Homo sapiens: one gene and its partner. The protein of the gene in region 2 interacts with the protein of the main gene of each other region in a pairwise test. Each region holds a gene or a part of one and is shown on either strand. Other genes may lie near its edges.

Region 1 (7,176 bases), on a different chromosome or scaffold from region 2:
TACCACAGATCTTAGACCCCAGCTCTCAGGAAGATGATGAGGGGTTATCATCATTTCTGGGATGACTCTGTGTGCTGTGTGCCCCTAGGTGGAGGTGAGCCCTCTGGAGAATGCCATCCAAGTGGTTGAGAATAAGAACCAGGAGCTACGCTCCCTGATCAGCCAGTATCAACACAAGCAGGTGCATGGCAACATTAACCTGCTAAGCATGTGCCTGAATGGTGTCATTGATGCAGCTGTCAATGGAGGCATTGCACGCTATCAGGAGGTAAGCTGTGGCCACAGGCCAAACCCATGCAGCCAGCCTGGCCAGGAAGGCGGCTCACAGGCTTCTCTTTTCAAGATTATAGTCTCCTTAGGTAGCCTTCCCTACATGCCCTCTCTTGACATGGTCCTGGAATGAGGCCCTAAGCTCCCTATCACTCCCTATTTCTTTGGCACAGTTTGGTAGGGCCTTTTCTTCATTTTTATTCTCTGAACTCTAAGATGGGTAATCTGTAATCCTGATTATGGGAGGATGTTAAGTGCCCTCCAAGAGGAGCCTTGGAGCCCAGCCCGTCAGGAGAAGTGAGTTGTAGGCTGGATAAGAGGCTAGCCCCTACTCCCAGTCCACCAGTCCTGCCTGCCCTACCTAGGCCATCCAGGCTCCATGAGGGACTGGGGTCAGCATCCAGACTTAGATGGCTTGGCCACGTTCAGTCCTTCTCAGACAAAAAAACACACCTCTAATTGCCAGAAGTTCAAACAGGCCAGACTGGTGTATGTACCTATGAGGAGACAGCCTGGCTGCTTTTTAGGTGGCATTAGTGGACTCAAGTCTCCTGGGCCCCACTTAAGTAGTAGTCCTGGGAAGAGTCTTCCTGACTTGGCCTTTCCTTTCACAGGCCTTCTTTGATAAAGATTACATCAACAAGCACCCAGGAGATGCTGAGAAGATCACCCAGCTCAAGGAGCTTATGCAGGAGCAGGTATGTCTTGGAGGGCTTGGGAACCAGCAGCCAGGTGAGAAAAGCCATGCACTACAAGATGAGCAGTTCTCAGGGGCTACTCATGGTTCACAGAGTGGCCTTGTTTGTGACTCTGATAGGTTCATGTCCTTGGAGTTGGGCTAGCAGTTCATGAGAAGTTTGTGCACCCAGAAATGCGGCCTCTGCATAAGAAGCTAATTGATCAGTTCCAGATGATGCGGGCCAGTCTCTACCATGTAAGTTGATCCCTGTCCTGCCCCTGCTGCAGTAGAACCAGGTGTCACTTCCTCCAGACCTACGCCACAAACCAAAGGAAAATAGGAGAGAGGGAGCCTGGGCAGGGGCCGGGGTTGGGGAGAGAGGCTGTCCTCCCTACAGAGGGACAGGGGGCAAGGATGGATGCTATATCCAGGGGAAGGATGCTGAGGATCCTCCCACTCACTCACTCCCAAAGGAGGAGCCAGATTCAAGGGCAGGGAACGTTTTTCAGGGCACTGTGCTAGTAGACAGGTTTTCATATGTGAAGGAAGAGAGCTAACATATATGGCCCACATGTAGGGATCTTTTTGGAGATGTTTTTCATCCCAAGAACCTAAAGAGATAGGCATGGCCTGAGCCAGCCTTCTCTCCCCATCTCCCTCCTCCTCCTCTCTCCCTGTCCTTCTTCATTCTTTCTCCTCCCTCTAATCGTTCTCTTTTCCCTCTTTTTACTCTTCCTCCCAACTCCCTTTTCTCCCTCTGTCTCTCCCTCCCTCTTATTCCCAGCTTCCTCTATCATGTCTCGTGATCCAAGCTCACATCTGAGATAGCCTAGGATGAGCAGTACTTTCATGCTAGCAGTCCTTAAAGGAGTCAAGCAGGTCCTGGGGCTGGACCAGGCTCCTGAAAGTCTCCCTAACTCTGGCCCAGCTCTTCAGCCTCCACAGTAGGGTTTGGCCCAAGGACTTAAACACACAAACAGGACTTATATTCCAGGACCAGTATTCCTTGGCAGGGTCTTAGAGGAAATGCTGACTGGCTGAGGATAGAGCCCCCTATTCACATATCCAAACCTCATTTTCAACTGTGGGGCTGACTCCAAATGTTTTCTAAAGATCCCTTCCTGCTAAACAGGCTGGCTCCCAGATCTTAAGGGATATGAGCCCAATTACCTGCTGCTACCTGGCACCCAAGCCAAGTTCTCTTCTCATCACCCAGGACCACTGGACAGAAGTGGCAGGGAGACAAGAAGTAGAGCTGTTCAATGCTGCACGAGGTTGTCATGAGCAAAAAATTCCCCCTCTAGGGATAACCATGGCCACAGGAGCCCTGAGGGAGGTTGCACTACTTAAACTCAGTGGGCCTGACCCATTTGGGGCGGACCTGCTGTGTTCTTGGATGCTGCAGGTTCTGGTCATCTCCGTCCCTCCAGGCTCCCAGTGCAGGTCTCAGCCTGTGTGGACAAGTGTGGACAGCATGAAAAGAGAAAAAGAAGCTTGTTGTAGTTTGAGAGGTAGGGGCACATTTTCCAGAGGAAAGCCTGGAGATCCTGAAATTTCTCCCTCTGTTAGGATTCTCCCATGGTATTTCAAGGTGAAATATGCAGAGAAGCTCTTTTACATCTCCGCCTTAAAATTGGAGTGTCCATTTAGTTAAGAACTTGGGCAGTATCGCTGAGTCTGGTGGGTATTCATTCCACTACCTCTCATTCCAGGGTCTCCTGCCTGTTTGACTGGTCTCTGCTGTGTGCAAACTTCCCCATCACAGCAGGTGACCCAAGCAGGCTGGAGCCTGGCCAGTGAGGAGGTTCTCTGCCATGTGGGTTGCAGCAAAAAGCACAAAACACTTTCCTATATACATCACGTTCTTCCGTGTGCACACATAGCCTTTCTCCAGCTACAGAAATACATTTTAGCCCTCTGTATGCTTTGGAAGAAGCAGGTGGAAAACCCGGTGCTTCTTCACACCAAGCTCAGAAATATCCCCAGTGGACTTAGGGCCCCTGTTCACTACAGCTTTTGAAGGACGTGAGGAAACCTTAACAGTTGTTTCCTCTGAGTTGTACACAGGGACACAAACAAACATGCTGTCACCCAGTAGGGTTTGAGATCAGAAGTGTCTGCCCAGAAATCTACATACTTAATATGAATTAATTAAGCTAAAATAGAGCTGTGCTATTTTTCAGTTACATACATCAGGATTTTATGTTCTGTCTCCCCGTAGACTGTGTCACAGACAACCCAGGTCACTAAGAGCTGGGCCATTTAGCAGTCTAATAAAACCCAACACCAATCCTTATGTAATTGGTGCCCACCTATTGACAACTAATAATAAGCTCTTCCTCTCCTTCTTCCCAGATCTTGTTCTACTTATTCCGTAGCGAGAAAACCTGTTAACACACTCCTATGAGCTCAGACCAGCTTCAGTTTATTCCAGATGTGCTTCTCTTAATGTGGAGTCAACCTGGGGCCTCGCACACGGCCTTTGGTCTAGGTTCCAGTGCAGTTAGGAGGGTGTTTTAGTCGTGAAGAGGGCATTGCCCAAAGGAAGTCAGCAGTTCAGGTTCAGCCAACCATATGATTCTTTTTTGTTTCTTTTACATTTTTGATCACCAGTCAGTTATTCCCTCACATCCCTTAGTTACTTATTTATTCTTTACTCTCTATGAAGGGGCATTCATTTCTCAACAGGAGTTTCCAGGTTTGGATAAGCTAAGTCCTGCATGTTCAGGCACCAGCACCCCACGGGGAAATGTTCTGGCATCCCATAGCCCCATGAGTCCGGAGAGCATCAAGATGACCCACCGGCACAGGTATGGCCTTAGGGCTGGGGAGGGTTCCCTCTGGAGAGGTGAGTCTAAATTGTCAAGGGTCAGAGGAAAGAGTCCTCATGTATACTCATATTCCCTCTTACCCATGCACACAGCAAACACTTATGTGGCTCCTGCCATAGGACCCACACCCTGCATTCAGTCAGTCACTATCCTGGGTAAGAGAAGTGTATACATGATACTGTGGGAACATGGAGGAGGGGGCATTTGGGGTAAGTCTTGAAGGATAAGTAGATGTTTGCTAGGGGTTAGGAGGGTGATAGGGCAAGATCTAGGAAAATCGACTGACACATGCAGAAGCCTCAAGATATGAACAAGCCAGCCTGGTCAGCACTCTGAGTAGAGCCAAGTGGCTGGAGTGCCGGATTCCAGGGCACGGAAAGGGGATAGGATCAGCTCTGAGTGGGCCTTGTTCATGCAGGCCTTTGGACTTGATCCCAAGGAGAATGAGGATCACCAAGTCAGTTTTAAGGAAGAAACAGCATAGTGATGTGAACATCAAAGACTGGTTTGCCTGGGCTCAACTGAGAATACTGAAAGCCTCTAGGCCAGGAAGGCCAAGTTGGAGGAGGAGACTAGTGAGAGGAGCCCCTCACTTAGGCTTGTTTTCCAGTGTGAGCAGCAGCTCAGCACAGAGTGGGCACTTAGTAAATAAGGGACAAATGAATGAGAAGCTTTCCTGGTATTGCTAGAGGAGAGCTATTGACAAGCCTTTTGGCCACAGATGTGGAAGGAGGCCTGCAGATAGTTCACAGCCGGCTATTTTGGTAGCTTCCCACACTAGGAAGAAGCCTCTGACCAAGAAGCAGATCCCATCATGGTGTGGGGGGGTTGGGGGGTGGGCACTGACCCAGACTAATACCCCATAGAAAGGGGAACCTGAGGTCTTTGACCTGATTTGGCATATCTCTTATTCCTCCTGAGAAACTGCTAATGTCATGCAACTGAGTGGCCATAAGCCATGTAGCTGTAGGTAGAGGCTTGTCCAGTGTACCACACCATTGTCTCTCCCAGACCAAGGGCTCCTGAGTAGCAGGGTACAGCTCAGGACTGCTCCAGGCCTCAGATGGGTATGAGCATTGACTATGGAACCCTCCAAACCGGTGGTAGCTGAAACCAGGGATGACTATTCCACACATTCCGCTCTACTGTCCCCCTGCCACCTGCCATGGGCCTGACTCCTCCCTATTTCCCACTCTTGCTCACAGCCCCATGAACTTGATGGGCACAGGCCGCCATTCATCATCCTCTCTCTCCTCACATGCGTCTAGTGAAGCAGGAAACATGGTGATGCTGGGTGACGGCTCCATGGGTGATGCTCCTGAGGACCTGTACCACCACATGCAGGTACAGAGCTGTCCACGGAGAGTGGGCCAGGGCACCATGCCTACAGAACTCACCTTGCTGTTGCAATGTCTAGTCTGAGGGCTTGGCAACCCTGCCTAATTCTCTAGCTCCTGAATTCAGAACACCCCTCACCAGAGCTAGAAAGCTGCCGTTCCTCCACACACCATCCTAAGTCTCGGTTCCCAGGCCTTATTTCCCAAGAAGAAAATCCAGCTTCAGTCCTGGTTGCTTTAGGAGATCCCACGGGAAAGATCCTCTGCCAGATTGCCCCCTTGCCTGGCATTCCTGTTGGCTTAGCCCTGCTTCCTCCATGGTCACCGTAGTATGGCCAGCCCAACAACTTCGCTCCATATGGGTGGTGTGGGTGGCCCCTAGTTGCCCAGCCATTAGCCTGGCCTCCATCAGGGCTCAGGGGATAGCATAAGGCACTGGGGCAGAACACCTCAGGGCATGAAAAAGCAAACTCTGTGCCAGCCCTAAAGTCCTGGCCATTCAGACCTCTATCCTGCTGATTTTTCTCCCTTTGCAGCTCGCGTATCCCAACCCCAGGTACCAAGGCTCAGTCACCAACGTCTCTGTTCTGTCCTCGTCCCAGGCAAGCCCTTCTTCCTCCAGCCTGAGTTCCACTCACTCAGCACCATCCCAGATGATTACCTCTGCCCCTTCCAGTGCCCGAGGTAAGGATGGCAGGGTGCTACTTGCAGAATGGAGAAGAGAGGTCTTCATCAACGCCACTCGGCTTCCTCTCATCTGTGGCTGTGTCTTTGAGCAGCCCTGTGACTTAGAGAATACTCATTTGTGCTTTTACCACTAAGGACTCGAGAGTTCCTGCCTCCAGGCCTCTTCCCTGGCTGGCTTCAGACTCCGCTCTGAGCAGTGGCTGCCGCTGTGCCGCCATTGCATTTCTACCTCAGTCACAGGACACACAGCTTAGAAGAAAGCTCACTTCTTTCCCATTGAAAGTTTTGCTAGAACAAAGATCAAAGTCTAGGCAAAAGTGAGTCTTTTGTCTTGAGGAATCAGGCATGATGACAAAGTATGAAAAGTAAATCGGGAGACTAAAATTAACCCTGGAAAATGTTATTCTAAAACAATAACAGCAACCAAAAAATTTTTCTTCAGTTGGGAAAGGCTTTCTCAGGAGAGATGGCTCTGTAAAAACCTATTTACTTTGCCAATTATTAGTTGATTTCTTGTTCAGTTGAATGAATATTGTTCTTTGAGAGGCAGCATCTTCGCATCTTTTTCACGTTCTAATCCTAGTTCCCAAGTGAAAGTTGATTCTGTCCTTGTAGACAGAAACATTTGCAGTGGAATGGAAATTAGCTGTGGTACATAGGATCTAGTGCTTCCCAGGGTTGGCTTTGCAGGGTAGTGACAGTGGTCTGAGCTTGCCAGCCAGTCACTTGCTCTTGCTTCCAGGCTTCAGAAGGAGGGAGTCTCTTTGTTCTTCTCATTATTATGAAACCAAAGAAAAATATCACAAATTTATTTATTTATTTTATTATACTTTAAGTTCTATGGTACATGTGCACAACGTGCAGGTTTGTTACTATGTATACATGTGCCATGTTGGTGTGCTGCACCCGTTAACTCGTCATTTACATTAGGTATATCTCCTAATGCTATCCCTCCCCACTTCCCCCACCTGACAACAGGCCCCAGTGTGTGATGTTCCCCACCCTGTGTCCAAGTGTTCTCATTGTTCAGTTCTCACCTATGAGTGAGAACATGCAGTGTTTGGTTTTCTGTCCTTGCAATAGTTTGCTCAGAATGATGGATTCCAGCTTCATCCATATCCCTACAAAGGACATGAACTCATCCTTTTTTATGGCAGCATAGTATTCCATGGTGTATATGTGCCACATTTTCTTAATCCAGTCTGTCATTGATGGACACTTGGGTTGGTTCCAAGTCTTTGCTATTGTGAATAGTGCCGCAGTAAACATACATGTGCATGTGTCTTTATAGTAGCATGATTTATAATCCTTTGGGTATATGTCCAGTAATGGGATGGCTGGGTCAAATGGTATTTCTAGTTCTAGATCCTTG
Region 2 (5,635 bases):
ACACTGTGCTGCAACTTTTCGGTTTTATATTTGACTAAGTTGCTTGTCATTTCCCTGATTTGATGAATTTTGTTCTCATTTTTACAAATCTCAATTTTACAAATTTTGTTCTTGTTGAGTTCCTAGGGCCTATCTCTAAGCACACTTTTGATTATTGAATGGATATTTCATTTCCCCTTAAAATGAAAGGATTGTGTTAATTGTATTTTCATAACTAAAACAAAATGGATGACTGGTATGCATGTCATTGGGGACACCCATTGCTTTGTTCATTGTAAAAGCAGGTGGACAGGACATGCTGTAGGTGATAACTGAAGGATGGCTTAGAACGGACTTGCAAATAGACTCAAGAAACATTCAGCCTTGCACTTTTTCTTTTGCAATTACTATTAGCTTTCCCTGCCCTTAAATGTTGTCACAGAGGTTTCAGAGGCCAGTTAATTCTCCTTCCTCTTATGTGTTCTGAACAAGAATAAGAGAGGAATTTAAACATCAGCAGATTCAAATTAAGTAATCAGTTTTATTTTGAGTAATATGAATAGCAGAATGCAACTTGGACTTCACGACAACATCAGTCTTCCTACTTTACTTCTGCCTTGGATTTGGCTGAGTTGCCCAGGCTTAGGAAACTGCAGGCAACAGGAGATGAGTTGGAGGTGGTAGGCTCATTGCATGGGAAAAAAAGCCTTGGGCAGCCTGGAGAGAGAAGGTGAGGTGGCCAAATATGGGCAACAATCCTTCCCCACATGGTCACAAAATGAATGGAAACAGATGGCATACTCTTCAGATCTCACAGGTCCAAAGGAGGGTCTAGGGAGGAGCTGGAGAATGCTGCCTTTCATAGTCCTGAAAAGGTTTCTTTCTATTAAATGCACCAAAGCTGGAGTGCCAGAAGAGAGAGGGGCTGGATCTCCCCAACCAAGGTCACAGGACAGATACATTTCTTAAACCCAGTGTCTCAGGACCTCAGAGATCCTGGTCCAGAAAGTTCCCTTTTTCATGGATTGGATCTTGTAACCCATAAGAAAAAAATAATATGACTTTGTTTGCTGCCTTTGACCTAACACTTACTGTTTTATCATGATGATGGGTAGATTAATAACTGCTCCTGATAGCAAGTACATGTTAATAACATCGAAGCTTAATGATCAAGGAATTAACAGCTTGACACAGGTGTGAGTGCTCTGATGGGAAGAAGGAACCCCTGTGAATGCAAAGGACTTTTTTCCTGCAATGCATGCAGTGCTCTGGACCATATCATCTCAACCCAGGTCAATCTGTAATTGCACATCCTGATGACGGTAAAGAGAAATGACCTGGATGCTTCCACAGCTTGTGCTGTGAGGCCAGAGTGGCTGGTGCTGTGCCACGCTTAATACTGCATGCTTGGACCCTTCTGACATCCCTCCCAGTGCTGGGAGTTTACAATCCTGATAATGCCTCCAGTGCAAATGACTTAAGAAACATCCTTCGCTGGGCTCTGACCTATAATTTATTAACCCACGGTTAGATTTATTTAGTTCTGGCTTATTTCAGGTCTGTGGGTATGCATTCTTTTCATTGCTAAATGTGCTCCCTCAAAGTTGTGATGTCTTTAATTAGACCCATTCTATAAATTATATCATGGTAAGAAAGAAAAAAGAGAAAGTCATGGTCAAGAGACAGCAATGTAAAAGGAATAGATATTTTCATACAGTGGGTCTGATTTTCTCAGTGAGTCGAGATGGTCTTCTTAGAAGTAACATTCTCCACTGATGCTCAGAGCCTATGGTGACCTAGCAATGGTGGAGGGTTTCCCACAGCAGTGTTTTTCAAACCAATGTACATAAACATCACCCAATTCAGCAGGTCTAGGGTGGAGCTGAAGAGCTGGCATCTCCAACAAGCTCCCAGGTGATGCTGATGACTGAGTAGCAAGAACCTAAGTTACTAAATCAAAACACCAGCTCCCCAAATCATCACAATCCATTTTATTCCACAGCATGTTTAAGGGAATGTTATTTTCAGGAAGATGTTTGGGATTAAAATAATTAAAAAAAAACTGGAAATTCACACATTTATGTATCTCTTCTTTTCATTAAATATATATCTGTTTGGCAAAAAATGTTAGACTCTTTTGTACAAAAACAAAGCAAAAAAAAAAAAAAAAACTAACCCAAAACTCTTGCAAATTGTAAATACCAGTAATAATTACAATGATGTAAACTTGGATGTCTGACAGCTTGACCATCCTGTGGAACTTGAGTTGCAGCAGGACCTCCCAGGAGAAGGTAACACCAAACGCTTGGATAGCAACAGTCCGTCCTAGAGGCATTTAGGTTTAGTCTATTAGAGATGGAGCGAGACTACTGATTTCACCATTTGTGCTTTCAGCTAAGAGGCTGGGAGCGTGGGTGGAAATGAAGAAGGCAGTTCTGGCCTGGGGCAGGGAGAGGAAACCCCAGACTAGCTGGTGAGGAGGGAAGATTTGTCACGATCACAGTGCAGACGCAAAGTGGGCATGGGACCTGTGGACTGTTTGGGAAATTTATGCTAGGGAGGATCACGAGGAGGCTGCGGCTGCTGCTCTTGGGACCAAAGAGGAACAGAGCAAGGCAAAAGCAGGGAGAGAGGTGGGAGGAGATTTGAGCGCAGATCTTAATTCAAGTGTAACTGGTGGTGCGAGATGATTCTAGAGAGAGGGGAAAGGAGGATGTGGGGTTTGGTCTTCTCATCAAATAGCTAGGCCATTTCCTCCAGACAGGGGCCTTGGGGCACTGCCCTTGGTCTGGTGGGCAAGTTTTTGGGCAGTCTGGGGCTGCTGGCTTTCCTGCCCAAGGGAAGGAAGGGCATGCCTGCAGAGGGCTAGGATGGAAGGGCCCTTTGGCCTTCTTACTGGCAGTGGGCTTTGCTCTTGTCCCACCAGTGGACTGCAGCCATGGGAAGTGACCTGAAGCAGTGGAGCCGAGGAACAGAATCAGGGCGGTGAGCAAGATGCCAGCTAGGGGCTGAAAGTTGCCAGGGCTAGAGGTGATGCTGAAGGGAATGTGGACCCACAGCTTCCCTTTACCAAAGGACGGTTCCAAGGCGTGGGTGTGTTTTCATTCCTCTCTCCTGTTAGCTAGGTGTTCCAGTTTTGGAAGGGGCATGTCTGGGCCCGGCCACTTCAGTTACAGTCATAGACGAAGTCATAGTTGCTGGGCTCCTTGGGAATCGGCGGAGGTGCGTCAGGGATCTGGATGTTTTCCAGGTCCAGGAGGCGGAGCTTGATTTCCATGCTGAGCAGGGTGTCCAGGTCATTCCGCGTCAGGTCGCTCATCATGTCCTTCCCGAGTAGCGCATTCAGTCCATCCGTCCAGATACAGTACTGGCAGGAAGGGAGGCAACAGCGATCATTACTGGTGGCAATTACAGAAGTATTAATAGTAAAAATAGCTAACAGTGAATACTCATCCCTCAGTAGGCTGTGCGCTAAGGGCTCTGCCTACTTCGTCATTTCATATTTGGCGACATCTCAATATAAAGTCGATACTTCTGTTATCTCTGTTTTATAGGTGAAGGAACTGAGGTACAGAGAAGTGACTCAGTATTATGTAGACCGGGTGGGATTTGAACCCAGGCAATCTGACTCCAGTGCCTGTGCTCTTCTTTGCAAAGAATGCTTCTCTGTAACAGCTGAGGATTGGAGTTCTCCATGACTTGCAATGTAACACCTAGGTGGGAGTCTATGACTTTTAGGTACTGGTGGAATCTACCGAACAGCCCTGGACTCAACATCAGGTGAAGCAGGTTTCTTTGCTGACTCCAGTCATGGCTCCTAGTCTAGTAGCTCATCTCGGCCTGTCCTGTCTGATCCTAGCATTCACAATGACAGCCCTGTCCCACCCTGGAGCCAATGGCCAATGGCAGTCCCACCTTGGTGTTTCTCAGCTAAAGGGCTAGGAAATAGGCTTATGCTGCCCAGTGTCTGGCAGCCAAAATGGTTAAAATTATTGGGCAATCTTAATGGGAGGAGGGTTGGCTGCCTGTCTGGGGACCTCTTTAGCCTTTGTCTCTAGTTCCTAAGGTTTCTTTTCACCAGGTCTCTGGGGCCTCATACTTGGGGATATTATCTGTTTTGGAAAGCCCTTCACAGTACCCAACTAAGAGTCTGATTCTTCTCCTTTCATAGCCTTTTGTCTCTCCAGGAGACTATGATCTCTGTGAGGGAGAAGGAAGAACTGTGCCTTGTCTGAGGACCTGCTTTTCTCTTCTTAGCTTCCCCTCCCAGAGGCTGGAGTTCTGTACTGACATGGACAGAGAACCATGACACCTGGTGAAAGAGGCACCCCTGATGCCAGCATCTCAGAAAGCTGCTTGGCATTCTGGATGCTGGGCTCCACTCATGCACTGGAGTTTAGGTTTCTAGTAGTCCTATATAGGATTCTATAACAGCAATTGTTCTCCTCTTCTGTTGAAGTGGTCTTCCTTCTACCATGCACTCCAGATTCCCAACTTTTCTGCCTCACTAGTTCAAGCGGCAATTCCAGACCCTCTTTAACCTACTTTGGCACTGTGGTTATCTGGACTGTATTCCATGGTAGCAGATCTCAACGTAAAAGTAACCAAAGTATACTGCAAGCACTATATAAATCTCCAGTCACCATGATGTGATGGAAATCTTCCGTGATGCACATCAGCGGTCCTCCTTTTTAAGCTGAGGAGATGCACAATGGGTGTATTATGAGATCTGTGTTTCAGGAGGGCAGCATTGATTTGGAGGGCTTTGGTTCTACCTTGGCTATGTGATCTCAGCCAAAGCATTTAACCCATCGAAACATCAATTTAGTGTTAAGGGATTTCCGGAAGAATTAGTGTCCTCATGATCTGATTCTGAACATGTCTAACCATCAATTTCTTCATAAATAACCTTGACAGAAGTAGACACCTAGCTCCTACCTTGGAGATCCTGATCATGTAGATCTAGGGTGAGGAGACTTTGCTTCCTAGAAAACTCTAACGAACACGCAGGTACGGGTGCCACTGAACTCTACATTCTCAAAGGCCCCTTCCAGCTTTCATGCTGTTTCATGGTAAATCCCCAAGTCCTGGGGATTACTGTTCTTTTCACACAGCCTTCCCAGGCCTGGCTAGCTTCCTAGTATAGATTAGTTTAACCCACAGGAACACTTCTGCAGCACGTTTCTTTTTAGAAACAACAGGCACAGAAAATTTTATGTGAAAGTACATCGACCAATAAATAAAAACCCTGTAGTACTGATACTGAATTTGAGTTGGAACTATCAGTATCAATTCATTAGTTTATCTTAAAAGAAAACCACCTAGCTCTGTCCCCAAAAAGGGCTAAAAAATAATGACCAACCAAGAACCACTGCATCGTGGTGTGCAATGACCATAAACACAACTCATGCTTAGATTCTGGTCACTAAATATCATTTCCCACTACAAGTAATCAAGGCTTCACAGAGAAAAGGCAGGAAACATAAAGATAAACCTGGAACACTCCATCATACCAGAATGCCAGAAAGTTATCAAAGACGTAAGGGGTCCTCCCAATAGGACTCAGATGCCAACCCAATGGTGTTCCTACTTGTTCCAGACAGGATAACTTAGAAACTAATAACGACAGTAACTGCAACATATTGAGACACAATTC

What was found.
Region 1: the proteins of ELMO1 (region 2) and DOCK3 interact in a two-hybrid assay, tested with the Homo sapiens proteins (one study listed by BioGRID).

The regions. Positions count from the first base shown.
Region 1 is NC_000003.12:51,356,874-51,364,049, forward strand, and holds part of DOCK3 (dedicator of cytokinesis protein 3), read left to right. Parts: intron 1-88; coding exon 89-268; intron 269-884; coding exon 885-968; intron 969-1,087; coding exon 1,088-1,204; intron 1,205-3,637; coding exon 3,638-3,759; intron 3,760-4,985; coding exon 4,986-5,124; intron 5,125-5,653; coding exon 5,654-5,801; intron 5,802-7,176. UniProt on the Homo sapiens protein: Potential guanine nucleotide exchange factor (GEF). GEF proteins activate some small GTPases by exchanging bound GDP for free GTP.
Region 2 is NC_000007.14:36,852,406-36,858,040, forward strand, and holds the end of ELMO1 (engulfment and cell motility protein 1), read right to left. Parts: intron 3,347-5,635; coding exon 3,146-3,346; 3' UTR 501-3,145; downstream 1-500. UniProt on the Homo sapiens protein: Involved in cytoskeletal rearrangements required for phagocytosis of apoptotic cells and cell motility. Acts in association with DOCK1 and CRK. Was initially proposed to be required in complex with DOCK1 to activate Rac Rho small GTPases.